Linked DNA regions of Homo sapiens. The protein of the gene in region 1 interacts with the protein of each later gene in a pairwise test. Each region holds a gene or a part of one and is shown on either strand. Other genes may lie near its edges.

Region 1 (7,586 bases):
CTCCAGGTGACTAAGGTCACATACCAGCACACAAGGGTTCGTGTTTGTGGAACCTGGTAGCTTCCTTCAGAGCTGACATTTGCCCACAGCCAGCCTGGCCCAGCCCCATACCACCAGCCCTGGCGCTCTGGGGCGTGAGGTGCCTTTTCTGCCCCCCTGCTCTAGGGCAGGTGGAAATCACCCATGGTGGGTCTACATCTGATAGAAGCATCTTATAGTTCTGCTTCTGGACCAGACCATCCTGGGTTTTTCTCTGTTCTGCTGAAGGGTTCCCTCCACGTGTCCATCACCTCGGTGAACTCTTGGGAGACCTGGGAAGATGCTGGCCTCACCTCTCGCCCCTCCTTTCCCTCATTGTGCTGCCACCATCCTTCTCACACAGGCTCTCCAGGGAGAGCTGGGCAGGATGGGATCTTCCTGGGTTCCCACCTTGCTCCGTGCCCCCTCTCACTGTTCCTGAAGTGTGGCCACGGACTGCCTTGTTTTCTGGAAAGTCCCAAGTCTGGACCATGACTGAGCAGCATTCTCGGCTATCTGCCACCTGTCTGGGGCTCCTGGCCCCTCTTAGACTCCCCTCTCCCTTCTGTTTCCCCCGAGCCCCTGACTTGGACCTGCAGGGTGGGGAGAGGGATGGGACGAGAACCTGTGCTGGGGCCAAAGGTCGCACTGGGGGAAGGTGGAGCCAGGGCAGCAGAGTGCCTGGCGTCGGCCCCTATCCTGTCACTAGTTCCCCCGTTCTGGCCCCTGGCAGGTTTGTAACCCCAGATCAGAAGTACTCCATGGACAACACTCCCCACACGCCAACCCCGTTCAAGAACGCCCTGGAGAAGTACGGACCCCTGAAGCCCCTGGTACGTGGTGTGGTCGCTGCCGTGGATCTCTGCACAGTGGGATCCCTTCGGTTCATCCAACCATGTTCAGTCCACAGGACCCTTCCCTCTGAGGTCTCATTTGATTCTTTCTCCTGAGAAGATGCAGAGATCCTGATAATATAAATGGGGAAGCTGAGGCTGCTCTTTGTCACTTCCTCCGACTGCTCCTGAGCACCTGAGTTTGCAAGCACGCGCCGGCTGGTGCTAGAGACATGGTGGTATCCCGTGACACTCAGCCTCAGGATGGGGGAGACTGATGTGAAATACAAATAACTTAAACACTTTCAGGCAAAGATAAGCACTGGGCCTAGTTCAGAGAAGTGGCAAATTGCTACTCTGGCCTGTCTCTGACCAACTCCCAGTTCTCTACAGAGCACGGGAAAGCCCCTCGGGGACGTCTTTCCTGCAGTGTGCAGGCTGCCCTTCTCCCCTGCTCTTCCCAGTTGATGGGATGGTTGTGTTTTCTCTATGAAAAAAGGAGTTGGCACCTTGGGCTTTCTGAAACACACAGGTGTTTTAGAAATCAGTGGAGGGTGAGAGAAAGGCATGGTTGTGGAGGCACTGGACTGTGAACAAGGTCTGCAGCGGGTCCCCCTGCTGTCTCTCTCCACTGCATGGAGCCTCCTATGAAGCCCAAGGTGGCTGGGGGCTGAGGCTCCCTTGGGCCTGCCATGGAACTGATTCTGAGTCAAGCAGACTTTCCACGGACCATGCTACATGAGCCGAGGTGAGGCACTAGTTAGTGCTCCTTTCCTGTTGCAGTGGAGATTTGGCTCCTCTGTACTAAAATATCTGCATGCTCTCCAAACAGGTGTGAGGGCAAATCACATGACCTTGGCAGCTGTAATTAAAGTTTGTGGGGGCTTTTCGGATGACTTATGAGGAGTGGCTGTGATTCGCACCTTTCACTCTTAGTAGCACTCGCCCTCCCCTGTTCTCTGTTGCCTGAAGCTGGAGAGGTCCTTGGAACCCCGAGGCCTGAGAAAGGGAAATGGGTTTGAGAGCCCCCATTAGTGTGGAACAAAGGGTTGAGTGAGCCTGGGCTTTGAGCTGTCGGGGTCCTAATTCAGCAGCTGTGTGACTGTGTGCCAGGCTGTTGATCTCTGAGCTTCTGTTTCTACCTGCTTAAAATGACGGTTACTGCACAGGGCTGTGTGAGGGTTACAGTGCGTCTCTGGGCTGCTCCCAGCCATGGCAGGCCCCTGGGAATCAAGGTCATCAGCTGCTTGTCCAAGGCAGCAGTTAGTGGTTGTGAATGGTGCGTGTGAGATCTGCATCCTGGCGTCAGGCCTCCTTCCTGCCTTACCCAGGACAGCCCAGTTGCAGCTGGGTTGGTCCCACAGTCCCACACACACACAGCCCGAGTGTGGTGCCTCACGTGGGCTGCCCCGTGCCTACCCACAGCCACAGACCCCGCACCTGGAGGAGGACTTGAAGGAGGTGCTGCGTTCTGAGGCTGGCATCGAACTCATCATCGAGGACGACATCAGGCCCGAGAAGCAGAAGAGGAAGCCTGGGGTGAGTAGGGTAGGGGTGGGAGAGCCTGGGCAGGGGGAATTGGAGCCGTGGCATGGGGGAGGCGTCTGGGGACAGGTTGTAGAAAGTGAGGCGCTGGGGAGAATGGGGGCGTAGCATATCCCCTTTGCCCCCTTTCGCACGGTGGTTGTTGAGGAAACTGACAAGATAAGGACAGTGTCTCTGGGACCCTCCTCTGCTCTGCTTTGAAGGATTCACTTACTTATCCAGCATTGTGTTCGGACCCTGCTCAAGTTGGGCTGGGCTGGATGTGGTGGATGGAGCAGCAATTACGACCCAGACTGGATCTCCCCTTAGTGTTCAGGGGGCAGAGACAGATGCTAGACAGACACACCATGACTGAATTCACAGGGTACCAAGGGCCGCAGAAAGGGAGGTTCCAAAGGAATCTTTTGGGTGGAGGCGAGGCGGTCGGGATGAGCCAGCCAGGCCAGGCAGTGCCTGGCTGAGTGTCAAGCTGCATGAGCTGGGGGTGGGGGAGTGGGTTCAGGTGAGGTGGAGTCTGCAGGGGCTCCTGGGCAGGGGGGCAGGGAAGGGACTGTCCCAAGCCTCCGTTCTATGCCAGCCTCCCTCCCACTGCGTCGTTAGCTTTCATGACAGTGCGCGATCCCTTCGAGTCTCCTAGTGCTCCTTTTTCCCAGACTGCTCTCCTCAAGGGAGAGCTGGGAACGGTGGGATGTACAGGGTGTTAGGTAAGGAGGGGAGGTGGGCGGTCAGCCTGGGCGGGACTTGCCCGAGCTGGCACCCCATGTGCACGTGGAGAGAACTTGGCCTCTGGCCTCCAGGGTCCTCCCTGGCCTCTCCTTGGTGGGGATGGTTGTGAGCCATGGCAGCCCCTGCTGAGTGCACTGTTGGGTAGAGTGGGGATGTGACTCTCAGAGCCGCTCCCTGGTATCGGAGCAGGCCCTGGACCTGCTTCTGTGAGGTGCACGGTTAGGAATGGGGCGTTCCTTGATTGTATTAGGCATTGTAGAGGGGCTTGTCCTGAGGGGTTTGTGTTCCCATATTACTGGCCTGTGGGTGCTATTTTAGGTGTTACTGGGGTGATTCTCTGCTGGGCCTGTTTGAGGGGCTGTGTCTGGTCCATTCGGGGTGAGAACAGGTCACTTCGTGGTGGAGGTTCATGCTGTGTTCCTGCTCACTGTCGCAGCACCTGGCAGGATAGGGTCTACCTTGGGTACAGAGTCTAATGGGGCCATGGGGCCTAACTTTCCCAGCCACCCCATTCTTCTGACAGCAGATTCCCACTAGCTGGGCCTTGCTCCAAGTCTGCACTGCAGCAGGGCCTGGTTTTGTGACCATCCATGGCCATGACCATCCAGGTGCTGACCATGGGGAATCCAGACACTCACCCTAACCCCCTTCTATCTGCCAACCCCTAGCTGCGGCGGAGCCCCATCAAGAAAGTCCGGAAGTCTCTGGCTCTTGACATTGTGGATGAGGATGTGAAGCTGATGATGTCCACACTGCCCAAGTCTCTATCCTTGGTAAGGCTTCTGCTCCTTGGAACTGTTGAGTTTTGGAGAGGACCCTCAAGGTGGAGTTAGTGTAGTGACTCTCCAACTGGGCTTCTGGAACCCTGGGCTCTGCAGGGAGGGGCTATCAGGGAGGGTGGGTCCGGGCACCCACTCATGGCTTCAGTCAGCAGCTCTGCTTGTCTCTCACAGAAGGTTTTGTTTGGCAGAGTTGCGCGGCTAGGACATGTTTTAAAAACATGCATCTGGGTCTCCTGCGCTCTCCCAGAGAGGGTCAGTGATGTGTCTTTTTTTTTCTTTTTTTTTTTTTGAATTGGAATTTCGCTCTTGTTGCCCAGGCTGGAGTGCAATGGTGCCATCTCGGCTCACTGCAACCTCCGTCTCCCGAGTTCAAGTTGTTCTCCTGCCTCAGCCTCCCAAGTAGCTGGGATTACAGGCATGCATCACCACGCCCGGCTAATTTTGTATCTTTAGTAGAGACGGGGTTTCTCCATGTTGGTCAGGCTGGTCTCGAACTCCCCACCTCAGGTGATCTGCCTGCCTCGGCCTCCCAGAGTGCTGGGATTACAGGCGTGAGTCACCGTGCCCAGCCTAGTAATGTGTCTTAAGGTATAGCCAGGCACTTGGGCACATTAGTCCTGGGATGGGTGCTATACAGCCCCCAGGCCAGTGGACTTGCTGTGCCGGGTGCTACAGTGAGGTCGACCTCAGAAAGGGGGTTGTTGCCTGTGCAGAGCCTGGGTCCCCAGAAGCCAGGGTGTGCTGCTGATCCCTCTCTGCTCACAATGGGGTGAGTTGGCTTGCCCTGGCTCAGAGTGGGGAGGCGGTGAGAGGCATGGCGGCGTCATGAACAAAGGTTAAGGGTTGCCTGATCTTCCAAGTAGACTGCTGCCCTCACGGTCCTTGCAGAGAAACCTTGTCCTGGCTAGGGGTCTCTGACAGGCTGGGGACCTGCAGCCAGGTTACTGCAAAGAAAAAAACATCACCGCAGGGAGTGAAGAGCACAGATTGAGTCAGGTGGGCCTGGGTTTGAGTTATGACACCATCACTGCTCTCTGGGATCTTTCAGGTTCCCTGAGCCCCAGTTAAAAGCCTATAAAAGGGGTGCCAAGCCTAAGTCAGGAGGGCACAGTGCCAAGCAGAGCAGAGAGACTGGAAGGGCGTGGGAGGGGCTTTGTGCAACTCCGCTGTGCTTGGGGTTGAAGCTGCGTCTTTATGATGCTTGTGGATGTTTCTGGTCCCAGGAAAACTAGGAACAGCCTTGGCTCCTCCTGAGGCTTTATGTGACAAAGCCAACGTTATTGAGTATGTTATTACTGGATAATGCTCAGTGATACTCCACATTTATTGATTATGTTATTATGGCCTGGGGGCTGCACGGCACCCATCCCAGGGCTGATGTGCCCCCACGTACTTGACTGTGCCTCCAGACACACCACTGAATCAGGCTCTGAAACGCACACACGTTTCTTTACTTGATTACTTGATTTTTTTTTTTTAAGTAAGAAAGTTCTTTAGAACAAGATTAAGTTCTTTGCTTAATTTTTTTTTGAGACGGAGTCTGGCTCTGTCTCCCAGGCTGGAATGCAGTGGTGCAATCTCGGCTCACTGCAAGCTCCACCTCCTCCCAGGTTCGCACCATTCTTCTGCCTCAGCCTCCCAAGTAGCTGGGACAACAGGCGCCCACCACCACACCCAGCTAATTTTTGTGTTTTTAGTAGAGACGGGGTTTCACCCTGTTGACCAGGATGGTCTCGATCTCTTGACCTCGTGATCCGCCTGCCTCGGCCTCCCAAAGTGCTGGGATTACAGGCGTGAGCCACCGCTCCTGGCCCTTTGCTTAATCTTTTAAGTATAAAGTAAGCTTAAGCTCATGTAAACTCCCTATCTGAAAGCAGAAACTGAGGCTTGGAAAAGTGTGTATCCTCTTTCAGGTCTCAGCAGCCAGGTGGTGGTGCTGGGGTGGGATTGCGGGTTTTTTTCTTCCCTCTCACAGCTTCTCGCAAAATGGTGACTCCTTGACTTGGTTTTGGTTTCAGCCGACAACTGCCCCTTCAAACTCTTCCAGCCTCACCCTGTCAGGTATCAAAGAAGACAACAGCTTGCTCAACCAGGGCTTCTTGCAGGCCAAGCCCGAGAAGGCAGCAGTGGCCCAGAAGCCCCGAAGCCACTTCACGACACCTGCCCCTGTGAGTGCTGTGGCCATCTCTGGGGGTCCTGCAGTGCCCGCCTTCTTAGCTCAGGGCTGAGTGCTGGCCATCCCTGGGGGTCCTGCAGTGCCCGCCTTCTTAGCTCAGGGCCTTTGCATAGGCTGTTCCTCTGCCTGGGTGCTTTTCCTGCTACTTCCCGTGGCTGCATTTGCTTAACTTACTCTTCTGATTTCAGTCTCAATGCTGCTTCCTTAGGGGTAAGCCTTCTCTGACCCTACATTCTGTAGAGATACCCCCATTCTGCCATTCTCTCTTTTGTGGCCTGGGTTTCACTTGTAACTAAGTCATTATCCCTGTATTTGGTTTGCTTAGTACATGTCTGTCCTCAAGCAGGGGCTGGCTTCAGGCTGCTGACCCGTCTCACTGCTCCTTCTCACCCGCCTCCTGGCTGTGGCTTCTCCTCGAGGCTGGTGCTGCACGGGGCGGGCAGTGCATGGCCATGTCTCCTTGTCCAGCGTCCTACTTACAGTTGAGGAAGCCCACAGCCAGGAAGTGACTTGTCCAGGGTCACAGGGAATGTGGAGAGAGAATAAGAAGGCTCTGGCTTCTAGGGGAGGGAGGCTTATAACTCTACCCTTCCCTGGCCAGGATCACCAGGGTCTGTTGGGAACACATAGTCCCTGCCTGGATGGTAACCCTCTTGCCTCCTCCCAGATGTCCAGTGCCTGGAAGACGGTGGCCTGCGGGGGGACCAGGGACCAGCTTTTCATGCAGGAGAAAGCCCGGCAGCTCCTGGGCCGCCTGAAGCCCAGCCACACATCTCGGACCCTCATCTTGTCCTGAGGTGTTGAGGGTGTCACGAGCCCATTCTCATGTTTACAGGGGTTGTGGGGGCAGAGGGGGTCTGTGAATCTGAGAGTCATTCAGGTGACCTCCTGCAGGGAGCCTTCTGCCACCAGCCCCTCCCCAGACTCTCAGGTGGAGGCAACAGGGCCATGTGCTGCCCTGTTGCCGAGCCCAGCTGTGGGCGGCTCCTGGTGCTAACAACAAAGTTCCACTTCCAGGTCTGCCTGGTTCCCTCCCCAAGGCCACAGGGAGCTCCGTCAGCTTCTCCCAAGCCCACGTCAGGCCTGGCCTCATCTCAGACCCTGCTTAGGATGGGGGATGTGGCCAGGGGTGCTCCTGTGCTCACCCTCTCTTGGTGCATTTTTTTGGAAGAATAAAATTGCCTCTCTCTTTGTGCTGGTCTGGACTCTGCCTCTCTACTGGGCCCTGCTCATGGTTCCCTGGTGACCTAGGGGCCTCTTCTGGGATATAGGGACCTGAATGCTCATCCTCAGAGGCCAGCCTTATCGGCACAGCCCAGGCCTGAGCCCTTGACCCTGTTTCCACAGAGGGGCACAATGAGATGAGAGCAATTTCTCTCGTCTCTGCACCCAGTGGGCATCTCTGCAAAGCTCTGAGTATTAATAGCCATGGGGTTGGGCGGGGGTGGGCAGAGACTGGGGGCGGAGGAGGACGATGGGTTGGTGCAGTAGGGCCTTGCCTGGCCC
Region 2 (8,652 bases), on another chromosome or scaffold:
CACTGCAGCCAAAGTATTAGTATCTGAAGCAAGGCTGTCGTTGCTGTTGGTGTTGGCAAGTCATAGAAAGCTATGAAAGTTTTTTATTAGAGCAGGAAGGGAAGGTAAAAATTCCAGGGTTTGATTAAAGCATTTCACCTTGAATTTCTCAAGAGTTTCTACCTTGACTTACACCATTCCCTGGCTCCAATGAAGAATTTACATATAGCGGGCGCTAAAAAATATCTGTCAAATGAATGAAAGAGTGCTGTGGCCTCAGGGGACCAGCACACACGAGGCCTACGGTGATGGAGCCAGGCTATGAGTCTCACTAGCACTGCAGGACAAGGTCTTAAACAGACCCATCTCAAATGGCCTTTCAGGCTCTGGTATCTGTGTGTGCGTGTATCACCTGTTCACCAATTTTCCAAACAATGCTTCATTTTGATAAATAATTACCTGGAAAAGTCTTCTGCCAAATCTCCCCATCTCTCTTAAAGGAAATTTCCTTACTTAATATTGTACTTGTTCCCCCATAGGTGCACAGGTCAAGGTTTTAATTTAGTGTCACACAATTTGTGGATTGCCTAATGCATGAACTAAAGGAAGAGAGAGAACAAAGTCTAATTTAGCCCTTATGTTAAATGCAAACACATACATAATGGGACTAGTTGGCTATTTCTAACCTACGTTTCTCTCTCTCCCACAAGAAACGGTAATAGTATTTGATAGAAAGAGAAACAGCCTGCAATTTATCGGGCTCAATCAATTCTTACGCTATCATATGCTGAGCTGGAGATTGAGGTCGGCACAGACACTGGTGACTCTGGCATAGTTCGTGGACATCCAGTTTGCCTCAGACTCTGAAGCAATGTCCATTAAGGGAAGTTAAAATTAAATTTGATATAGAATGGTGCCAAAAGTTCGTATTCCGAGTTGAAAAATGAAACTACATACAGTTAAAAGAAGTCTTCCCTTATGGTACCAGTGTGACTCTGTAGCCTTTCACTGGTTGTCTGCTGACATTGTATTTATTTTTTTGGATAAGCACAGAAAGAAATGAAAAAGAACAAAACATGCCAGAATTATTCACACCTTGGCATCCTTCCGGCCATAAGCTTTGAAACTTGGAAATGCCATACCAAGGAGAATAAGGAAAGAGATGAAAAGATCCTTACTTTTTGGACTATCTGGACTTCGTAGTGCAGCTCTTCCTTTGCCCTTGGGGGTTTTTAAACCATCTGAGAGGTACTGATGACCGCTTTCTCCTAGCTCCAGCCTTCGCTTTGCCTGTAATAAGAAAGTGCGATCTCTCGTCACCGGTCATATGGACAAGAACAAGAAGGGAGGCAGTTTGTGGGCTGGCCTGCCAAATGCTGCAGGCTCATGCCAGCTCTCACCCCTCTGCTCCACCCCACTCAGCATCTTGTCATTCCCTAGAGCCAGGATTCTAGCGTTGTAGGCTGGGTTGTCATGCACACTCTCTTCACCTGCCGTGATCATCCGTCCACACCCAGATGGACAAACACAGCGATCCTTCAGCATTAGGTTCAGGAGTCACTTTGTTCATTGATTCAACACATCATGTGCCTGGCATGGGGTTGGATGCTAAGAATATCACAGGCGCCGTGGGGCTTAAATTCCCTTTCCACAGTGAGTCTTTCCTGCCCATCTCCCATTCTCCGACCTGGGTTGGACCCCCTTCCTTGTGCTCCCCAAACACTCTGTGTTTATTTGTATCATGACACTTATTCGGTATTACTGTAAGACTTATCTGTTTCTCATTTCCTTTAAGGCAGGGACTGTTTCCCATTTATCTTTGTATACCCAGTGCTTGGCACAGAGCCTGGGTTTCTGTAGATTTTCAATCACTCTCTCTATATACTGTATATTCAATGAGAGAAAGGGTGATTGGATCGTAACACAACTAGTCACAGACTACAAACGGCCCTTCATCGGGAAAACAAATACTGCAAACATGCAATCTTGGGCTTCAACCACTATTACTTTCTCCATTTTCTTATCAAGCCTAGCAAATGAGAAGCCCTTATCTAAGTTTTTAATTTAACTCCAATTAAATTTTAAAATATCCACATAGCGTCTTCTAGGTACCTAGGCATTGGGCTTAGTAAGCAAGATAGATAAGGGGCTTCGAGTCCAAGAGAAAAGATAGATGGTTAAGCAGTTGTTAAGTACTAATTGTATGGGTATGACAGGTGTTTTAGAAAATAAATGGCACCAACTGGACACTCAGCACAAAAATATGTATTTAGGCTCATTTTCAGGCAGATTCTTCTAATGAGGAGATTTGCAGTTTCTTTTTTTTAAGACAGAGTCTTGCTCTGTCGCCCAGGCTGGAGTGGAGTGGCGCGATCTTGGCTCACTGCAACCTCTGCCTCTGAGTTCAAGTGATTCTCCTGCCTCAGCCCTCCCCAAGTAGCTGGGACTGCAGGTGCACGCCACCACTCCCAGCTAATTTTTGTATTTTTAGTAGAGACGGGGTTTCGCCATGTTGGCCAGGCTGGTCTCGAAGTCCTGATCTTTGGTGATCTGCCCACCTTGGCCTCCCAAAGTGATGGGATTACAGGCGTGAGCCACTGTACCCAGCCGAGAGTTGCAATTTCAAAACAACTCCCCGTGATGTGAAAACGTAAGTAATAACTTATCAGCGGAAGCTAGATATTCAGCCCCTCTATGGAAAGTTACCAGCTAACCCTGCACCGTCTACTACGATAGCCACTGGTTACTAGCTCATCCAAACTGACATGTGCTATAATTGTAAAATACACACTGAATTTCGAAGACTTAGTACAAAACAGGGTAAAATATCTCAACAATTTTAGTAGTGATCACATGTTAAATGAAATAAATAAAATACAACTGACCCTTGAACAACATGGGTTTGGACTGTCCGTTTCCACTGATTTTATTTTTTTAGAGACAGGGTCTTGCTCTGCCGCCCAGGCTGGAGTGCAGTGGTGTGATCTCAGCTCACTGCAACCTTGTCCTCCCAGGCTCAAGGAATCCTCCCATCTCAGCCTCCTGAGTAGATGGGACCACAGGTGCACACCATGATGTCTGGCTAATTTAAATTTTTTTTTTTTTGGGTAGAGATGGGGCCTCTGTATGTTGCCCAGGCTGGTGTTGAACTCTTGGGCTCAAGTGATCCTCCTGCCTCATCCTCCCAAAGTGCTGGGATTACAGCCGTGAGCCACTGCACCCGGCCATGAGTGTGTCCACCTATATGTGGGTTTTCTTCTTCCTCTGTCATCCCTGAGACAGTAAGACCAACCCCTCCTCTTTTCTTTCACCACACCTTCCTCAATGTGAAGATAACGAGGATGAATTTTATGATGATCCACTTCCAGTAATGAATAGTAAATCTATTTTCTCTTCCTTATGATTTTTTTTTCATCCAGCTGCTTTATATGCCCATATGCCTTCTACACTTTGAACCCTGGACCAAGTTCAGCTGCTAGGAAACGCAAATTCCAGAGCATACCTAAGATGCATTGGATCAGAAACTCTGGGAATGGGGCTGAGCAATCTAACAGGCCTTCCAGGTGATTCTGATACACCTTAAAGTTGGAGAAACCTGGCTTTAGATCATAAGGGAAAAGAGTAAGACACTCAGGCAAAGCCCAGCTCTGCCCAGCACGGCCTATTTCACACACCCTCACCTCTAGTCCTGCTTGGCTGATGAGGGAAATCTATCCTGTGGATTCCACTTTCATTCATTCCAAACTTTCTTTTATTGATAACATTTCCTCTCTAACTTCATTGTAAGAATACAGTATATAATACATATACCATATGAAATGTGTTAATGACTGTTTATGTTATTGGTAAGGCTTCTAGTCAACAGTAGGCTATTAGGGCTGGGTGCATGGATCACACCTGTAATCCCAGCTACTCAGGAGGATGACTTGAGGCCAAGAGTTCAAGACCAGCCTGATCAACGTAGCAAGACCCCCCATCACTAAAATAATAATGAAAACCCCAAACAACAGGCTATTAGTTAAGTTTAGGGGAGTCAAAAGATCTATCTAAATTTTTGACTGTGTCAGGGCACCTCTAACCCCAATGTTGTTAATGGGTCAGATGTAGCATTAAAATTATTTCATCTGTTTCTTTATATATATATTTTACGATGTGGCTTGCCTCAGTGGCACACCTTATCTTTCTACTGCAGTGCTAAGTTAAACATCATTCTAATGGCTCCGGAAGGACAATCTGCTTGCTGGACTTCATCTTCCCCTCCCAGCCATTCTGTCAAGTCCTTGTGTGGGCCTGCTGTGGTTGGTCCAGCAAACATTCACTCTTTATCAGGCAGAAGCTCCCTGTTTGTTCCTTGGGGAGCCATCCCTTTCCTGGTCTAAGCGCATCTGTGCACACAGGTGATCCAGGCCTGGCTAATCATTGTGGCCCATCCTGCCCTCCCCGCCCCCACCGCGAACAGGTTGAATGGCTTATGACCAAGGCTGGAGGAGCAAAGGCTAACCCCAGGAATGTTTCTGGAACTATCTGGCAAGAAGCAGGTATGTCTTTCCAGTAAGGTTGGTAAGTGAGGAGCCTAAAGCTGCCTGAGAATGGGGCCTTCCCAGGGGAAAGCAGAGTGGAGAGAAGGAGAGAGAGGGGTCTGAGACCACCACTCAAAACTCTGGCTCTGGTCATGCCCTGGGGGCAACTGTTGGTCTTTCCCAGACTTTCCAGTTACATTAGCCAATAAACTCTCCTTTTTGCTTAAAGCATTTTTTTTTTTTGAGACCCGGAGTCTCGCTCTGTCACCCAGGCTGGAGTGCAGTGGTGCAATTTCAACTTATTGCAAGCTCCGCCTCCCGGGTTCATGCCATTCTCCTGCCTCAGCCTCTCGAGTAGCTGGGACTACAGGCGTCCGCCACCACGCCCGGCTAATTTTTTGTAGTTTTAGTAGAGACGGGGTTTCACCATGTTAGCCAGGATCTTCTTGATCTCCTGACCTCGTGATCCGCCTTCCTCGGCCTCCTCAAGTGCTGGGATTACAGGCGTGAGCCACCGTGCCCAGCTGCTTCAAGTGTTTTGAGTCGGGAACCTAGAATTGTGCTGTTGCCAGTGACAGCTTATGGAACTGGCTGAGTCAAGATGGCTATGGTGTGACAGGGAGTTGGCAGGCCTTGTTAGAGAGTGGCAGAGTGTGTTGGTCACTTCTTGTGACCGCCAGGAAGATACTACAGATAGAGAGAAACTTCATCTGAGGCTGGCCCGCCTCAAAGAAAACAGCTTTGCTATGGAGGCCTTCTCTACAGAAAGCAATCTAAGGAGACATAGAGCTGTATTCTCTGCCCAAATTAAAGTCAACAAATGGGCTGGGCACAATGGCTCACGCCTGTAATCCCAGCACTTTGAGAGGCCGAGGTAGGCAGATCACCTGAGGTCAGGAGTTTGAGACCAGCCTGGTGAAACCCTAACTCTACTAAAAATACAAAAAGTAGCCCAGCATGGTAGCATGCACCTGTAGTTCCAGTTACTTGGGAGGCTGGGGCATGAGAATTGCTTGAACCTGGGAGGTGGAGGTTGGTGCCTCCGCAATCCAGCCTGGATGACAGAGAAAGACTCTTGTCTCAAAAAATGAAAATAAAGTGAACAGAAAGAAGGCAAACTTGGAAAAGAGTCTGGGACCCAGAACTCCTAGGGACCTAGGGCCGTGCCTCAGCAGTAAAGAACCACCCACTGGTCAGCAGGCTGGGGGCATACTAGTTTTATCTCTCCCTCCCAGGCTGCTGTTTCAGACTGCCATGAGGCAAAGGCCTATGGAACCATTAAACTGTAGGTTAGGGAAATTTCCATGTCTGCTGCTAAGTGACTGAGACTTAACTTCGAAAGACCGGGACTAGTCTTCATGTGTAACTCTCGTTACTAAGCACCAAACCATAAATTGACCAAATTTGAATGCTAGATGGACAAGCTACTAAAATTGCAAGGCACTTTTATTGCGAAAGAATCACTAAGTCTAGAAAGTGAAGGTCCATGATGTTGAACCTCTAAGGAAATCAATCACTAGGTCCAAAAGCCACGCCAGAAATAAGTGAGGTGTGAAGAAGGGGCAGCCCCAGAATTCCTCCCAGGAGGTGGAACTTGGGGTGGACTTATAGGCTCTACAAACTGCTGTCCCTGTGGAGGACATGACAAGAAGCAGGAGGTGAGCACTTTATGTCATTTCCCCTTTTCAGAAGGGAGGTTCCCGTTGGGTTATCCTGTTATTTTTCCTCCCCTGTTGAGTGAACAGGGAGGGCGGAACTGGATTTGTGGGGACCACATATTACCTGTTTGGTCTCAGATCTGAACATGGGTGCAATAATTAGAATCTCTTGAAAAAGGGCTAAGAATTTTGATATTTGATGGAGCAGCATTATTTTAATGCTTAACTTAGCAAATTCAAGCACACATGCCTGGTAAAACAAAAAACTATATGACAGGATTTAAATAGTGCGGGTGAGCTCTGTCTACACCACCCTGCCCTGGGCTGAGCACCAGGGTAGATGGAAATCTCTTCTCTTGGTCATCTCAATTTTTGTTAGTTCACAGCGTGAGCATCGTACTGATTGGAGAGGTATTCATTGTTTATGCACAGATCTTTACATTACATGGCCCCTACCAGTAAAACAGCCAACTTATCCAGTAATCAACAGAAGGATGGGCCATTTGGTTCCAAGCAGTGGTAAAGCCTGGCTCTGTGAGATTCTGTGTGGAACTCCATGTGGCACCTTCCGGCAGTACTTTCAAGGGTAACTTGTACTATAAACAAGGTATGTGCTAACGTTAAAACCTCAGCCCCATGGACGTTAACATGCCTCTGCAAAGAAACAGTTGTACTGGTAAGCAGTTCTGAAAATCTATGTAGGAAAATGTATGTAGTTAGAGCTGGGTGCAATGGTAATGCGCCTGTAGTCCCAGGTACTTGGGAGACTGAGGCAAGAGGATCACTTGGGCCCAGGAGTTTGAGACCAACCTGGGCAGCACAGCAAGTCTCCCATCTCTCTCTCTCAAAACGAAAAAAAACCACAAAACCCCAAAAGAATTACCACTGGAGCCAGTGGGGAACATCTATAGTCTGCCTGCCTGATATTTGTTGCCCCTATTTTTTTTCCACTGGGGAAGGAGCTCTACTGATGTTCTTAGTTTCTATTAGTCTCCAAGCATGAAAAGACAAGACTTGAGACTGATCAACATTAGGACGACTCTTCCCATCAAAGTTGCAGAGGTGAGTACTGAATCCTGGCCTCAATCCCAAGGCTCAAGTGTCTGGGGTAAAGATGAGACCATGACCAATGCAGGAAGGGTCAGTCAATCCTGGGATTTTTCTTGGGAACCACTGGGAAAGTACTGGGTTCTTTTCACTGGGCATTATTAGGCCAGTAGGGTGCGAGCCTGGAGCTACTTGGGAAGTGAGCCAACACAGAAGAGCTGGGGAAAGGCTGAGTCCCAATCCCTTCAAGGGAGGTGCTAGATACAGCCATACCCAAAGGCACACATGCCACAGACTTTCATTTGTGTGAGCCCACAAATATCCCTTTTTGGTATAAGGCAGCTGAATTAGATTATTATTAATACCACTGATAGATACAGACCTTTAGTATTAATTATTACACAACAAATATTTGAGTGCTTATAATATGCTACGCACCATGTTAACTGTTTTCCACTCAATTTTGTTATCTTATTTTCACAACACCCTTAATAAGGTGGCTATTATTAATTCTTATTTTATAGAAGAAAAGGGAGGTCTAGTGTGATTAACTGACTTTTCCAAGATTCTATAGCCAGTAAGCACACCTACAAGTCCATGCTTATAACTACTTCATGAAAAGATTGTGAAAAGTCCCATGTAAAAATATTTGAATAGCTAGATTAAGTTGATATTGCCTTAATGACACACTTTATTTTATTCCTGATTTAAAAACTCTTCTTTACATATAATAAATGTATATGGTAATTTAAGCAGCATAAATGAGTATAAATGGAAAGCAAACTTTCTCCCTACTCCTGATCCCAGTTCCCTTCCTCAAAGGCAAGCACTATGAAGTTACTTGGATATCCTTTCAGATAGCTATATACATACTTGTATTTACCTAGACTATCTACCATCCCATCTTTAAAAAGTTTTTCCCATAAATCGTAGCAAAACACACACTTTTCTATTAATAACATATGTCCGAGTTAGACCTTATCAGAACACATGGAATGATCTCATTTCTCATAGCTGCATAATATTGTATTAATTAATATGCCACGATTTATTTACTTAAGCAGACATATACTAATGGACATTCAATACTCCTCTCCTATAATCATTTTTCCAATGAATAATCATGCTGGCATTGTGGGGTAGGTATTATTACACCCAGCTTGCACTGAGACAGAAGTTAAGGATTTACCCGAGGTCTCAGTTAACAAGGGACAGATACTAGAATTCTTATTTTTTATTTTTTTAGAGACAGGGTCTAGCTTTGTTACCCAAGCTGGAGGGCGGTGGTGTGATCATGGTTCACTGAAGCCTCAAACTCCTGGCTCAAGCAAGCCTCCCACCTCAGCCTCCTGAGTAGCACTACCATGAGTGGCTAATTTTTTTTTTGGTAGAGATGAGGTCTTGCTATTTTGTCCAAGCCAATCTTGAACTCCTATGCTCAAATGACC
Region 3 (8,652 bases), on another chromosome or scaffold:
GGGCCCGGCGGCGGCGGCGGCGGCGGCGACGGCGGAGCCGGCTCCCTCCTCCATTGTGTGTGACCCTCCGGCGGCTGCCGCTCAACAAAGGCGTTTTTGTTCGGTCTGCCGCCCGCCCCCTGCTCGCCCGCCTGCCCGCCCGCTCGGGCCTGGCCGGCGCGTCCCCGCGCGGGCGGGCGGGCGGCGGGCTGGGGTCCCCGCGTGGGGCCGGCCAGGCGGCCAGCGCGCCCCTCCCACCCGGCACGCCCCTCGCCGGTCGCCCTGCCAGGCCGCGCCCGCTCCCTGGCCCCGCACGCCTGCTGCCGTCCCGCCGCCTGCGCCTGGCTCCGCGGGTTCGAAACCCAGCCGGACCGGACCGGAGGGCGGGCGAGCGAGGGGCGGCGGCCCGGGGAACATGAGGTGGCGTGGAGTCTCGCCTTACTGGCACGCTGCCTTTCGAAATGCTCCCGCGTCTCCTCCCCCATCCCACCCGGTGACTCGGCCTCAGCTGACTCCGGCCGGGCAAAGTCTCCAGTGGCGTAGCGCGCAGCGCTCACCCGGCTCGTCTCAGAGCCCTGAAGTCCGCCCAAGTTTTGAGTCTTGCCATGAATGAGGTACTGAAAACTCGGAGACGAAATTCCTAATTTCCTCCCTCGGCCCTACAGTCTTTCCTTAGCTTCTTTCGGGACCTTAAGTGGTGGTCTGTAAAAGTGCCCAAATGAAAGCTTGTTTTGTCGGTTCACCAAAAAGGGCCTTGTCACTTTGCTGTGCATTTTAGTCCGCCTTGTGAGTTGTGTCGAAAAGTAAAGGTGTTTTGGCATCCTTTTGTTTCTTGGCGAGTGTAGGACCCAACCGGTTTAGGTGTTAGGGGGATCTCTGTGCAGCGGGAGCTTCTTGATTCCTTTCCTGTTTTATTTTTTCTTTTGCTTGTTCATTGGAAAAGGTCCAGTGAAAGGGACTGGTGAGTTGGAATTAGAAGCCTACTTGTATTAACGGCAGAATTCGTGTTCATTGCTAAAGATGCAGTCTCAGTAATGACTTTTTTTTTTTTAACGGATACAGATGATTTGTCAAGGGGAAAAATTAACACGCCATACAATGAAGAGCAAGCAGCTTCAGAGTAATTTTCTGATGGCTGATTCTTCTAGCCTGTCTCTTACAGTTCCAATTGCACATGTCCTCCCTCTTTAACGCTGGAAAACTGAGATGGAAAGAATGATCTGACCAGAAGAATGTAGGGTCCAAACAGGGCCTGGCCCTGAAATCAGGAATTTCTTCATAGAAATATCAGATTTTAATGTTTAAAAAATAATTTTGAATTGGGTGAAAGGAACTTTGTCTTTAGATAGTAGTTGTTCAAACATGTTTATGAAGTGTTTGCTATGTGCCAGGGATTGTAAAGTCATTTCACATATGTTACATCATTTATTAAGAATTGCCTTAAGCTTGTAAAATTATTCATTGATGTCCTGAATTCAGTAATTGCAGTTAATCTAGAAAATATGCCAGATTTGAGCAGAACATATTTGATCACCTAGGTATTACTGTTGAGAAGAAAACACTGGAAAATGGAGACTATTTTAGAAAAAACTTCGTATATGAGGATATTCTGGAATTCATTTATTTGCAAAAGAGGATTAGAAGTAGTCGTTGGCTACTTTCTGTTATTAAAAAATCCAGAGAAGAGTGATTTGAAGTCAGTTAATTTTGTAATAAAAAAATGCACACATTCTAAAGACTAATGTTAGCACTAAAAGTGTTGCAGTGCTTTACATAAATTCATTTAAAGCATCGTGAGAATCATAACTGACAAAATAGTAAGGTTTGCTGACTCAGGGTACTTTGCTGAAGGGGATGGGGGTCGGGTAGGAGGAAGCTTACAAGTGCTGCTGCAAGTTTTGAGTTGGATGATGACTCATGCTGCCCACGGACTGCTACGTGGCTTTTTTTTTTTTTTTTTTTAAATACACTGTATTTTTTTCTAAATGATAGGCTAAAATGTTCCTGTCCACATTGAAATTCTCTCTCATTTTTTCTGAAGAGGAACAGCAGTTTCTCTAAAAAAGTAATGGCTTCTTAAATTGCATTTTAAAAGGATATCATATACCCTACAGGTGGAATTGTGTAACATTTGCTGAGAGGAAAGGTAAAACCAATTTCTGGTCAGGTGCTGAAATTAAATGTTTGATACTAGCAGTTTTTTGGCTACTGCTGAGAGAGATTTGTTACAGGTTGTTTATAAAGGACAGATAGTACTTTTATGGTGTCGGTAGAAATTGACCTTATGTTTTTATTGGTTATGTGAAAGTTATCTTTATATTTAATATTTAATCAGATATGGCTCTGAATATGAAAGTTTCACTCAGAATTATTAAAACATAATTATATATTGTGCTTTGTGATTTATGTGAATTTTCTGTTTTAATAAAGACAATTTGAAATAGGTATTAGTCACTATTTTTCATGGTTTTTTTTTAAAGATAAGCTGAATGTACAGTTCTAAGTTGAAACTTGGTAATAAGATAAATCTTTTGACTGATTTTAAAACAGCCAACGTTTAGCAAGGTGGCTTAAAATAAGATTGAGAGGGGGAAAAAGATTGAGAATGGCAGTTTAAGAGTGGGGCTGGGTGCGTTGGCTCACACCTGTAATCCCGGCACTTTGGGAGCCTGAGGTGGAAGGATCGCTTGAGGCCAGGAGTTCAAGACCAGTCTGGGCAACATAACGAGACCCTGTCTCAATTTTTAAAATAAAAGAAAAAAAATTTCCCACCCCATCCTCTGGTTTTTCTGTGTATACTGTTTATTTTTCCAAAGGGATTTGAGGAGTTTGTGGACAGTAAAGTGTTTGTTGTTTTTGTGAGACAGGGTCTTGCTCTGTCACCCTGGCTGGAGTGTAGTGGTGCGATCACTGTTCACTGCAACCTCTACTTCCCGGGCTCAGGTGATCTTCCTGCCTCAGCCTCCGGAGGAGCTGGGACTACAGCTGTGTGCGACCATGCCTGGCTAGTTTTTCGTATTTTTTGTAGAGATGAATGTTCACAGTGTTGCCCAGGCTGTTCTTGAACTCCTGGGCTCAAGCAATCTGCCTGCCTCAGCCTTCCAGAGTGTTGGGATTACAGGTGTGAGCCCCTGCTCCCAGCCCATAAAATGTATTGTTAATGTGAATTAAATTTTTGGAACTATTTTGGAAGAGTATTGCATGATTTATACCTAGAGGTTTTTTTTTTACAAAGTTTAATTCAAACTTAAAAAAAATTTCCTACTAGAGGAAACATAAAAATACAAATATAAAAGTATTGAAAATTTTCAGAGCATCACATTACTTAGAGGTTTAACGTATTTTCGGCATTGTTTTCAAATATAGGTAATTAGCTGTAGTGCATAATTCAGAGTTTAAAAACAAACTGAGGCCGGGGGCAGTGGCTAACGCTTGTAATCCCAGCACTTTGGGAGGCTGAGGAGGCAGATCACGAGGTCAGGAAATCGAGACCATCCTGGCCAACATGGTGAAACCCCGTCTCTAATAAAATACAAAAATTAGCTGGGTGTGGTGGCACGTGCCTGTAATCCCAGCTACTCAGGAGGCTGAGGCAGGAGAATCGCTTGAACCCGGGAGGCAGAGGTTGCAGTGAGCCGAGATTGTGCCAGTGCACTCCAGCCTGGGTGACAGAGCGAGACTCCGTCTCAAAAAAAAAAAAAAAAAAAAAACCGAAAAACAAACAAAATAACTGGATATCTTAGCCTGCTTCCTGTCTCCAAGGTACTGCTTTATGAAATGCTGAGCCTTCTTACCACTGCTATCCAGTTCTTTGTTACATTTGAACCTTGTGTTACTCTAGGTCCCCTGTTAAAATGGAAAGAAGATGCCTCAGAAGTAAATTCTGTGTGGCATTGTTGGCTGCCTTCATTAGTTCCTTCAGCCTGTTTTGTGGGCTGTTGAACATTACACTACAACCTGCCAGTGGTGTGGGAATTTTGCTCATTTTTATTGCTGAGAGCCTTGACTGAGACTTCACAAAAACAACTCCAATGTTACTGTAGTTAATGGCATTTTCCAGGGGTTGCTTTCATGTGAAGCTGATGCTTTTAAGGTGACAGTGATTTGGGCCTAGTCCAGCATTGATTGGTTTTTTCACCTCCATGAACTGCGTATTTGGAAAATAATGTGTGTCTCTCTAAGAGTTTTTTTGTTTGTTTGTTTTTTGTTTTTGAGACGCTGTCTCCCTCTGTTGCCAGGCTGGAGCGCAGTCGCGCCATCTCGGCTCACTGCAACCTCCACCTCCTAGGTTCAAGCGATTCTTCAGCTTCAGCCTCCCGAGTAGCTGGGACTACAGGTGCGCACCACCATGACCAGCTAATTTTTGTATTTTTTTTAGTACAGACAGGGTTTCATTATGTTGGCCAGGATGGTCTCATCTCCTGACCTTGTGATCCGCCTGCCTGGGCCTCCCAAAGTGCTGGGATTACGGGCATGAGCCACCGCGCCCAGCCAATAGAGTTCTAAAAGTTTTGTCTTTTATACATGTCAGTCTTCTAAGTCCATTTCTAAAAAATTGTTCAGAGATTGAATGTTTGTATAGCAAATACAATTTCCCATTGATTTTCGTTAAATTTGGTATTTTTTTCACAGAAAAAAATGGTATCATAAAACTTGTTTTTTAGAATCCTAGCATTTACCTCAGAAAAGTCTGCCTCTGCAGAAAGTGCAAATCTGTATGCATTTAATTCTGTACAATCATAAAACTTTAAAATATTAGTGTTTTGGAGGGGTCATGGGCATTATCTTGCTTCATTCATGTACATCGTTTGACAGCTAAGGAAACCAAGGCCTGAAGAGATCTAAGATCTTGGTACTGAAAGTGTGATTTCTGGACCAACAGTATTAGCATCACCTGGGAACTTGATAGACGTTAGAATCTTGACTTCATCTCAGTCCTACGGTCCTACTGAATTAGAATCTTAGAATCTACTTTTTCTTTTTCTTTTTTTTTTTTTTTGGAGACGGAGTCTCACTCTGTCACCCAGGCTAGAGTGCAGTGGCACGATCTTGGCTCACTGCAAGCTCCGCCTCCTGGGTTCACGCCATTCTCTTGCCTCAGCCTCCTGAGTAGCTGGGACTACAGCTGCTGCCACCGCGCCTGGCTAATTTTTTGTGTTTTTAGTAGAGACGGGGTTTCACCGTGTTAGCCAGGATGGTCTCGATTTCCTGACCTTGTGATCCGCCCGCCTCGGATCCGCCCGCCCGCCCAGCACTCCCAAAGTGCTGGGATTACAGGTATGAGCCACCGCGCCCGGCCTTCTTTTTTTGTAAATAAGAGGCACAATCTTGCCCTGTTGCCCAGTTTGGATTGGAGTGTAGTGGTGTGATCATAACGCACTGCCACCTGGAACTCCTGGACTCAAGTAATCCTCTCACCTCAGTAGCTGGGACTACAGGCATGTGCCATCATACACTGCCTTTTTTTTTTTTTTTTTTTTTTTTAAGAATTGGAGTCTCACTGTGTTGCCCATGCTCGTCTCAAACTCCTGGCCTCCTAACGTGCTGGGAAGAACCTGCATTTTAACAAGATTTTCAAGTCATTCAGTGCGCATTCAGTTTGAGAAGCACTGCTAAACGATGCATACACCTGGGCAACATAGTGAGACCCTGTCTCTACAAAATAAAATAAAATTAGCCTGTTGTAGTGGTGCACACCTTTAGTCCCAGCTACTTATGAGGCTGAGATGAGAGGATTGCTTGAGCCCAGGAGGTTGAGGCTGCAGTGAGCCGTGATCGCACCGCAGCGTTCCAGCCTGGGCAACAGCAAGAGACCCTGTCTCAAAAAATACGTAAATAAATAAAAATTAAAATGATGCATACATGGTTGCTCAGCTCGTTAGTCTTCTGAGTTGCTCTTTCCACTGGCCCTTCTGAAAAAAGTCAAATGGAAAATTTGGAAGCTAATCACTGCCCAGTTGAACTTTCTATGATGATAGAAGTGTTCTGTGCTATCCAGTGAGGTAGCCATTGGCCATGTGTGACTGTTGAATACTTGACGAGCAAGTAGTGCACTTGAGGAATTGAATTTTTTATTTAATTTTAATTCCTTTAAATAGTTGGGGCTGGGCGCCGTGGCTCACGCCTGTAATGCCAGCACTTTGGGAGGCTGAGGCGGGCGGATCACGAGGTCAGGAGATCGAGACCATCCTAGCTAACATGGTGAAACCCTGTCTCTACTAAAAATACAAAAAATTAGCCGGGTGGCGGGCGCCTGTAGTCCCAGCTGCTTGGGAGGCTGAGGCAGGAGAATGGCATGAACCCAGGAGGCGGAGCTTGCAGTGAGCGCCACTGCACTCCAGTCTGGGTGACAGAGCAAGACTACGTCTCAAAAAAAAATAAAAATAGTTGGATGTAGCTGGTGGTTACATGGACAGCACAGATCTAGATGATCTTTGCCCACTCTAAAATCTAAGCTGTAATTTAATAACTGGTTAGACTCAGTTTAATAATTGTCCTTTCTTAATGTACAAATTGGAGAGAGAGTATGTTGACTTAGTTTTTCTAATATGCCCAGATATTATTTCAGTATGTATTATAAAACAGTGCTGATTTTCTAATTGATACATCTGTGTTCAATAAAGTAGATAATCTAAGTTGTAAGCAAGTCAGTTTCTTTCCATCTTAACAGGTATTTTCACTTGAATTTTTAAAAAGTAGCTATTAAGTTTTCCTTAGTTATCCTGTGGAAAGCATTGGCAGGATAGTTTTTGCCTCTGGCCTAGTCCCTCTAGGCTTGTTGGCACTTGTTGATTACTTCCAGATTGATCTGCTGTTTATGTTAATTCCAGGTACCGAAACAGTGGTTCTTAACCTCCTACCTTTTTTTGTTTTGTTGTTGTCGTTGTTTTGAGACGGAGTTTTGCTCTTATTGTTCAGGTTGGAGTGCAATGGTGTGATCTTCGCTCACTGCAGCCTCCGCCTCCTGGGTTCAAGTGATTCTCCTGCTGCAGCCTCCCAAGTAGCTGGGATTACAGGCATGCACCACCACGCCCAGCTAATTTTATGTTTTTAGTAGAGATGGGGTTTCAACCATGTTGGCCAGGCTGGTCTTGAACTCCTGACCTCAAGTGATCCACCCGTCTCGGCCTCCCAAAGTGCAGGGATTACAGGCGTGAGCCACCGTGCCTGGCCTTAACCTCCCACCTTATGCAGTGGGAAGATTCTAACCCTATAGTCACAGGCCTATGTCCAAATCTTGGCATTTACTGTGTGTGTAAAGAGCATCAGTGCTCTTGTTTGTAAAATGACATTTACAAGACTGTAGTTTGAGATGAGAGAAATAATTTGTCATTTAGAAAATGCCTGTCATGGCTGGGCGCGATGGCTCATGCCTGTAATCTCAGCACTTTGGGAGGCCGAGGCAGGCGGATCACAAAGTCAGGAGTTCTAGACTAGCCTGGCCAACATGATGAAAACCCGTCTTTACTAAAATACAAAAAATTAGCTGAGTATGGTGGTGCATACCTGTACTCCCAGCTACTCTGAAGGCCCAGGCAGGAGAATCGCTTGAACCCAGGAGGCGGAGGTTGCAGTGAGCCGAGATCACACCATTGCACTCCAGCCTGGGCGACAGAGCAATACTCTGTCTTGAAAAAAGAAAATGCCTGTCACAGCCGGGCGCGGTGGCTAATGCCTGTAATCCCAGGACTTTGGGAGGCCGAGGCGGGCGGATCACAAGGTCAGGAGTTCAAGACCAGCCTGGCCAGCGTGGTGAAACCCCATCTCTACTAAAAATACGAAAAAACTGGCCATGGTAGCGTATGCCTGTAATCCCAGCTACTCGGGAGGCTGAGACAGAAAAATTGCTTGAACCCAGCAGGCGGAGCTTGCAGTGAGCCGAGATCGTGCCACTGTACTCCAGGCTGGGTGACAGAGCGAGACTCCCTCTCAAAAAAAAAAAAAAAAAAAGAAAATGCCTGTCACATAATAGGTCCTTAGTAGATGTAAGTTACCTACCCTCCCCCTCCTGCTTGGATTTTATAGCCCTCTGTAATTGAGTTTTATGCTTAAGATTCCAATCAGGCTTAATACATATTCTGAGTCTTCATCTCTACCCGTTACTGTAATTTCATGCCTTGCTTTGTTCATGTTGTATCCCATGTAGATTGTGCCATTTGTGCTCTGGATGTCTTCTCTTGACTTTTTTTTTAATCTTAATTTTTTTTTTTTTTTTTATAGGCGGGGTCTCCCTGTGTTGCCCAGGCTGGGCTCAAGCAATCATCCTGACTCGGCCTCAAAAAGTGCTGGGATTACAGGCATGAGCCACTCTGCTCAGCCTGTTGATTTCTCTTTATTTATTTATTTATTTATTTATTTATTTACTGTTTTTTGAGATGGAGTCTCACTCTGTTGGCCAGGTTGGAGTGCAGTGGCACGATCTTGGCTCACTGCAGCCTCTGCGTCCCAGATTCAGGTGATTCTTCTGCCTCAGCCTCTTGAGTAGTTGGGACTGCAGGTGCCCACCACCACGCCCGGCTAATTTTTGTATTTTTTTTTTTTTTTTTTTTTTTTGAGACGGAGTCTCGCTCTGTTGCCCAGGCGGAGTGCAGTGGTGCGATCTCAGCTCACTGCAAGCTCTGCCTCCCAGGTTCACGCCATTCTTCTGCCTCAGCTTTCCGAGTAGCTGGGACT
Region 4 (5,599 bases), on another chromosome or scaffold:
AACCCGAGGCGAGGCTTGTGGCTGGCCAACTGCCAGCGGCTGGACCCCAGCGGCCAGGGCCTGTGGGACCCGGCATCCGAGTACATCTACTTCTGCTCCAAACACTTTGAGGAGGACTGCTTTGAGCTGGTGGGAATCAGGTGGGCCTCCCTGCCGGCCGACGCTGGGGTAGGATGTGGGGCTCCCGGCGGACTGGGACAGCTGCAGGTCATGGAAGTCCCTTGAGCAGCCTGCGTCCAAGGGGGCTGTTTCCTGTTCCCAGCTCTGCACAGTGAAACCCACCCCCAGGATCACTGTGCCTGTGACACAAGGGGAAAACAGGAGCCTTTCCAGAGAGTATCTTTCAGAGCCCCAGTCTTGCCAGCAAGTCCACAAATCAAAGAATTCTTTCTGGCTGGTCAGCCCAGCTCGGCTTATGCAGGCTTTCCACACACCTGGACTGTGAGGAGTCCTGCGGGGAAGCGATTGGTGTAGCTGTAACTTGGCGTTCCCCAGACGTATTGTTTGCACGATGCCTTCCAGCATCCCACGGCGCTGCTGCTGGGGGCAGATTGGCCTGGGGAGGCAGCACTTGCTCTCCAGCTCATCTGGGTTGCTTTTCCCCGCAGTGGATATCACAGGCTAAAGGAGGGGGCAGTCCCCACCATATTTGAGTCTTTCTCCAAGTTGCGCCGGACAACCAAGACCAAAGGACACAGTTACCCACCTGGCCCCGCTGAAGTCAGCCGGCTCAGACGATGCAGGAAGCGGTATGTGATATGGGTGGGGGATGCCCCACTCCCACCCCTAGGCTGAGGGACTGGGCCCTAGGGGTGTCTGCCAGCAGTCTCGCTGGACAGGGTTCTTGCTACACAGAACCTGTGGATCGGGTTTGGGTGTTAAGGGTGGATCAGGTGGGCTGGTGGAGGGGGGTCTGGCAAGCCCTCAGCCTAGCCCATCAGTCTCTCTCTTCCCCCTTACCAGCTGCTCCGAGGGCCGAGGGCCCACAACTCCATTTTCTCCACCTCCACCTGCTGATGTCACCTGCTTTCCTGTGGAAGAGGCCTCAGCACCTGCCACTTTGCCGGCCTCCCCAGCTGGGAGGCTGGAGCCTGGCCTTAGCAGCCCCTTTTCAGACCTACTGGGCCCCTTGGGTGCCCAGGCAGATGAAGCAGGCTGCAGCGCCCAGCCTTCACCAGAGCGGCAGCCCTCCCCTCTCGAACCACGGCCAGTCTCCCCCTCAGCGTATATGCTGCGCCTGCCCCCACCCGCCGGAGCCTACATCCAGAATGAACACAGCTACCAGGTGGGCAGCGCCTTACTCTGGAAGCGGCGAGCCGAGGCAGCCCTTGATGCCCTTGACAAGGCCCAGCGCCAGCTGCAGGCCTGCAAGCGGCGGGAGCAGCGGCTGCGGTTGAGACTGACCAAGCTGCAGCAGGAGCGGGCACGGGAGAAGCGGGCACAGGCAGATGCCCGCCAGACTCTGAAGGAGCATGTGCAGGACTTTGCCATGCAGCTGAGCAGCAGCATGGCCTGAGGGGCTGCTGGACTGACCGAGGGGCTGCCCAGCAAGACTGCAGCCTCTTCCTCCCTCAGATCCCACCAGACCCACCAGGTGCCATAATAAAGCGGATTCTAGACGGAGGGCCTGCTGTCTGGCTCAGCTGGGGGCTGGAGCCCCTCTGAGTACTAAGCTTGCTGCCCCAGACAGTGGCTGCAGCTCCTAGAGGGCTCAGTCCAAGCTCTTTGCCAAGGAGAACAGGGAGCCTGGCTCTCACCCCTCAGAGCTACTGGTAGACAGGTGGCAGTCAGCCCTGCTAGCGCAGCTCCGTGCCCCACAGGGTTCTCTGAAGGGGCAGGATGGTGTGAGTAGGGGCCAGGAAGACAGCTCCAGGCGCCCTTTCCATAGGATCTGAAACAGCCCTGACTTAAACCAGCCAGCCCCTTTGAGAACACTTCTAAAACCCAGTCTAGATCCGGTTCTCAAGCAGGAGCATGACAGGCTTCTGTCCACAGGCCCCATCAGCCTGGTGGGTAAGCTGGACAACCCTCTCCCCGCCCCCTTCACTACCATCTCTATTTGAAAAACGGGGATGATGATGACAATCATCAACCTCCTGGGTCATGTCAGCAGGTAGTAAAGCCCCAACAAGCTAGTCCCTGGAAATCTAGGAAGAGGTGGCCAGAACATGGAGACAAGCACTCAGGTCCTGGCCTCAGCATCCTTTTCCTTCAACTCCCAGGAACCTGGAAGGCCTTGCTGCAGCTGCAGTTCTCAAACAGCTCCGTCTTGGGGTGACTCACTGCAAGTATGGCCTCTCCCTGCCGAGGAGCACAAATGAAATTCATTCTAGTCCCAGAAACTGCCACACAATTTCGTAAAATTTGCTTTTTAGGGCCCTTGGCATGTAATTTCATTTATTCATATAAGTCTAGATCAGGGTTCAGTGACAAGGGTCAGCATAGAGCAGGGTTGCAGACTGGTTCAAGGAGGCTTCTGGGTAGGCCCCTCCAGGAGGGATTTGGAGGAGGCTGCCCTGTGGGTGTGGCAGGAGCCACATCTTGTGGAAACTGGGTAGATGGGTGTGTGGCCCCACTCTGAGTGAATGCACCTGGCCCACATGGCTGGGCGCTGCAGCCTGCACTCCACTTCCAGGTGCTGACATATCCTCCCCAGCCATGGTCCTGGGCCTGCTGTGTCCTCACCTCAAGGGCCTCCCGGCTCAGCCTCTGCCCCAGCTCCTGCTCTCTCCTCCCTTGTTCCCAGCTCATCTTGCACTAGGCCACTTCCTAGCCTGCAGGCTGCCTATGGATCTCCTGTTAGCTAAGCAACTTGCCACTCAGGGCCCCCCACACACCTGCATACACCCAAAGGAGAGCAGGTCACTTCCCCAAGGAGCTGTGGCTTCATGGCAGCCACAACAAGAAAGGGGTCCTGGAATCCTGTTCCCAGTAAGGGAGCGCTGGCTCCCAGCACTAGAGTGGATCCACATGGGGCCCTCACTAGGGCAAGAGGGCAGCCCTCCTTCCACAGGAGCCAAGAGCATAGTGCAGGGGCAAGGCAGGGCAGAAGGGGCAGGAGCCCACCCCAGGCCTCCAGGATTCCCCTGGAAGGGGCCAGCCTGGAGGCCTTCACAGCCCTTCCCAATGTGACTGGGTGACCCCAGGTGGAGGCAGGAGTTGACAGCATGGATAGAGACAGGTAAGGCCACTGACCTACATCTGGGGGTCTGCTAAGCCATGGGCTGCTCAAGGGGCTGAAGCCAGCAGTGGTGGCCGGGCCAGCAAGGTGTGTGTGGTGGGTAGCACTGCTGTGGCTTTAATGGAGGCTTGTCTGTGACAGAATACTCAGCAAGGGACACGGGGGACTTTGCTGGCTTCTTCCCGGCCGAGCCCTGACATGCACACAGGTGGACTGGGATCCTTCAGCCCCTGTGAAAACCAGGCCTGGCCCAGCACGACCGACCTGGGAGCTGACCTCAGGGCCCTTCACTCCAAAATTCACCTCAAGTCAGGTGAGACCCATACATCATGGGTCCCCACTCACAAGTTCCAGGTGGGAAGAGGAGCCCCTTACATGGATCTCAGTGAGGGTGGGTGGGACAGGAGCAGCCCAGGCAGATTCGCTGGTGCAGCGCAAGTCTGCTAAGCCTCCTCCCGCATGTTGGAGGAGCCTTGGTGACAGGCCCCAGTGCCTGAGTCCACAACACGCCCAGGCCACAGAAGCCAGGCCAAGCCCCACTGGGTGGGAGGCCCAAAGTCTCTCCCCACTTCTGGGTGGTGAGCCCATCACTGAGCCGTGGCCTCGCATCCACACTACACCAGGAGAGGGTGATGACAGGAGGGGGTCTGCTTCATCATCCGCTCCCTGTGGGACCTGTGTCTTCAGTGAATTAATGAGTTTGGGGCCCCACATCCCCTCAGCTCTCTTTGGAGGCTCTGGGCACCCTGACCCTTGGCCTGGCAGGTGCACCCACTGCCATAGGCATGCGCATAGCCGGTAGTCTTCTCAGTAGGCAGGGCAGGCAGGCACGGCGATTCTTCACAATGGGCAGGCGCCACAGGGCCTCAGATGTCGGCGCCCAGCTCTGCGCACTGCTTGTCTGAGATGTGGGAGGCCAGGGAGTCTATGATGTCCAGCAGCAGCTGCTGGCTCAGCGACCGCAGGGTGGGCAACTTGGAGACCTGTAAGGCAAGCAGGCCGGAAGGAGATGGGACCAGATCCACCTAAGGGCCATGGTGGGCAGTGGAGCCCTGTGGGGCCTACCCTGCTCAGGGCTCAGGCTGGTCCCAAGGATGAAGCAAGGTGCGGCCAGTGATGGGCTGCTCTGCTTCTCTCACCCCCAGGGCCCACCACTGCAGGGGACCACAGAGCCTGGGCACCCTCCCTGCCTGGGCATGGCCACTGCCAAGGGGAAGCGAGTCCTGAAGGGGAGGCCAGAGCCCTGACCTTGGTGAACTGGTGCACAATGATGTGCAGGCAGTGCCGCTTCATGTCCAGTGCCTGCGTTTTGTCAGCTGCCTCCAGGATCTGCAATGGCAGGGACCTTGAGGCGCTGCCCCTTTCACCCACTCAGTGGGAGCTGCAGCCATGTGCACGGGGCTGGGGGGCTACCTGCAGCACGTTCTGCACCGTCACGTTCATCTCCAGGTTCTGCTTGCAGTACGCCTGCAGCCGGTTGTTGTAGAAGCCGTAGTAGTAGGGGGCCGCAAACAAGTAGCTGGGGCCTGGTTAAGGAGCTGACTAAAGGAAGCTGGTCCGCCCGCACCCTCCCAGGGAAGGACAGGGAAGGGCGCAGCTGGAGCCCCAAGCCCCCACGCCAGCATGCTCTCCAAATGGATTCTGAACTACTTAGTGGGTCAAAGGCCCCATTCAGGATCCAAAGAAAACCATGAATCCCCTCCCGAGAAAAATAGTGTCTGTACATCTGTAGCGCTGTTCCATGGCCTTGCAGGCCTAACAGGCATCCTGACCCTCCATGTTCAGACCCCTACTGAAGTGACATAAGGAGTACCTCCATGTCTGTGCTCAACTGTCACACAAAGCAATGACCCACCCCGTCCTCTGGGCAGTTGTGAGGGTCAGGAACCCACTGGTTCCTCCTGGCTGCAAACCCCTCCTTGCCAGCTGCCAACTGCTTCAGAGAGCACCAGGCCCAGCCCCAGGCACCAGCAAACCCTCTGGAGGGAGGCGCTGGGCCCAGATCACCTAGCTGGGGCAGGAGAGCGGGCCTCAAAGCCACCTGAGGTGGGTGCCAGGACCCCTTGGTGGGGACCTGGGAGTTCACTGGGGAGTGAGGATGCAGCGAGTCCTCGGGCGGCATGTTGACCTCGCCGTAGTAGATGTAGCGCAGCATGGACTCGAAGGCCTGCCTGCTGGGCACCATCTCCCCGATGGAGATGTTCACCTGCCCATCTTCGGGCATGAAGGACCGGAACATGGCTTCAAAGTAGCTGCAGACAACGAGCGGTAGGCACCTGGCCGTCAGCAGAACGAAGACACCATCCAGGCCCACCCTCCCCTCCTGTCCAGCCCCCACCCACCTGGAGCGGGCGGCCAGGATAGCCTTGTGGGCTGGCCGTGGGTGCCCGTCAAGCAACAGAGTGATGTCACAGAATT

Evidence for each region.
Region 2: the proteins of MYBL2 (region 1) and E2F3 interact in a two-hybrid assay, tested with the Homo sapiens proteins (one study listed by BioGRID).
Region 3: the proteins of MYBL2 (region 1) and MAPK6 interact in a two-hybrid assay, tested with the Homo sapiens proteins (one large-scale study listed by BioGRID and IntAct).
Region 4: the proteins of MYBL2 (region 1) and LZTR1 interact in a two-hybrid assay, tested with the Homo sapiens proteins (one large-scale study listed by BioGRID and IntAct).

Annotation. Positions count from the first base shown.
Region 1 is NC_000020.11:43,709,212-43,716,797, forward strand, and holds the end of MYBL2 (myb-related protein B), read left to right. Parts: intron 1-751; coding exon 752-851; intron 852-2,276; coding exon 2,277-2,390; intron 2,391-3,790; coding exon 3,791-3,895; intron 3,896-5,922; coding exon 5,923-6,072; intron 6,073-6,747; coding exon 6,748-6,876; 3' UTR 6,877-7,271; downstream 7,272-7,586. UniProt on the Homo sapiens protein: Transcription factor involved in the regulation of cell survival, proliferation, and differentiation. Transactivates the expression of the CLU gene.
Region 2 is NC_000006.12:20,472,463-20,481,114, reverse strand, and holds part of E2F3 (transcription factor E2F3), read right to left. Parts: intron 1,270-8,652; coding exon 1,158-1,269; intron 1-1,157.
Region 3 is NC_000015.10:52,019,440-52,028,091, forward strand, and holds part of MAPK6 (mitogen-activated protein kinase 6), read left to right. Parts: exon of another isoform or gene 1-2,125; intron 2,126-8,199; exon of another isoform or gene 8,200-8,434; intron 8,435-8,652. UniProt on the Homo sapiens protein: Atypical MAPK protein. Phosphorylates microtubule-associated protein 2 (MAP2) and MAPKAPK5.
Region 4 is NC_000022.11:20,995,797-21,001,395, reverse strand, and holds the end of LZTR1 (leucine-zipper-like transcriptional regulator 1), read right to left. Parts: coding exon 5,524-5,599; intron 5,434-5,523; coding exon 5,284-5,433; intron 4,701-5,283; coding exon 4,595-4,700; intron 4,511-4,594; coding exon 4,430-4,510; intron 4,165-4,429; coding exon 4,048-4,164; 3' UTR 2,364-4,047; downstream 1-2,363. Other genes in the region: THAP7 (THAP domain-containing protein 7), read left to right, coding at 1-140, 609-749, 964-1,516. UniProt on the Homo sapiens protein: Substrate-specific adapter of a BCR (BTB-CUL3-RBX1) E3 ubiquitin-protein ligase complex that mediates ubiquitination of Ras (K-Ras/KRAS, N-Ras/NRAS and H-Ras/HRAS).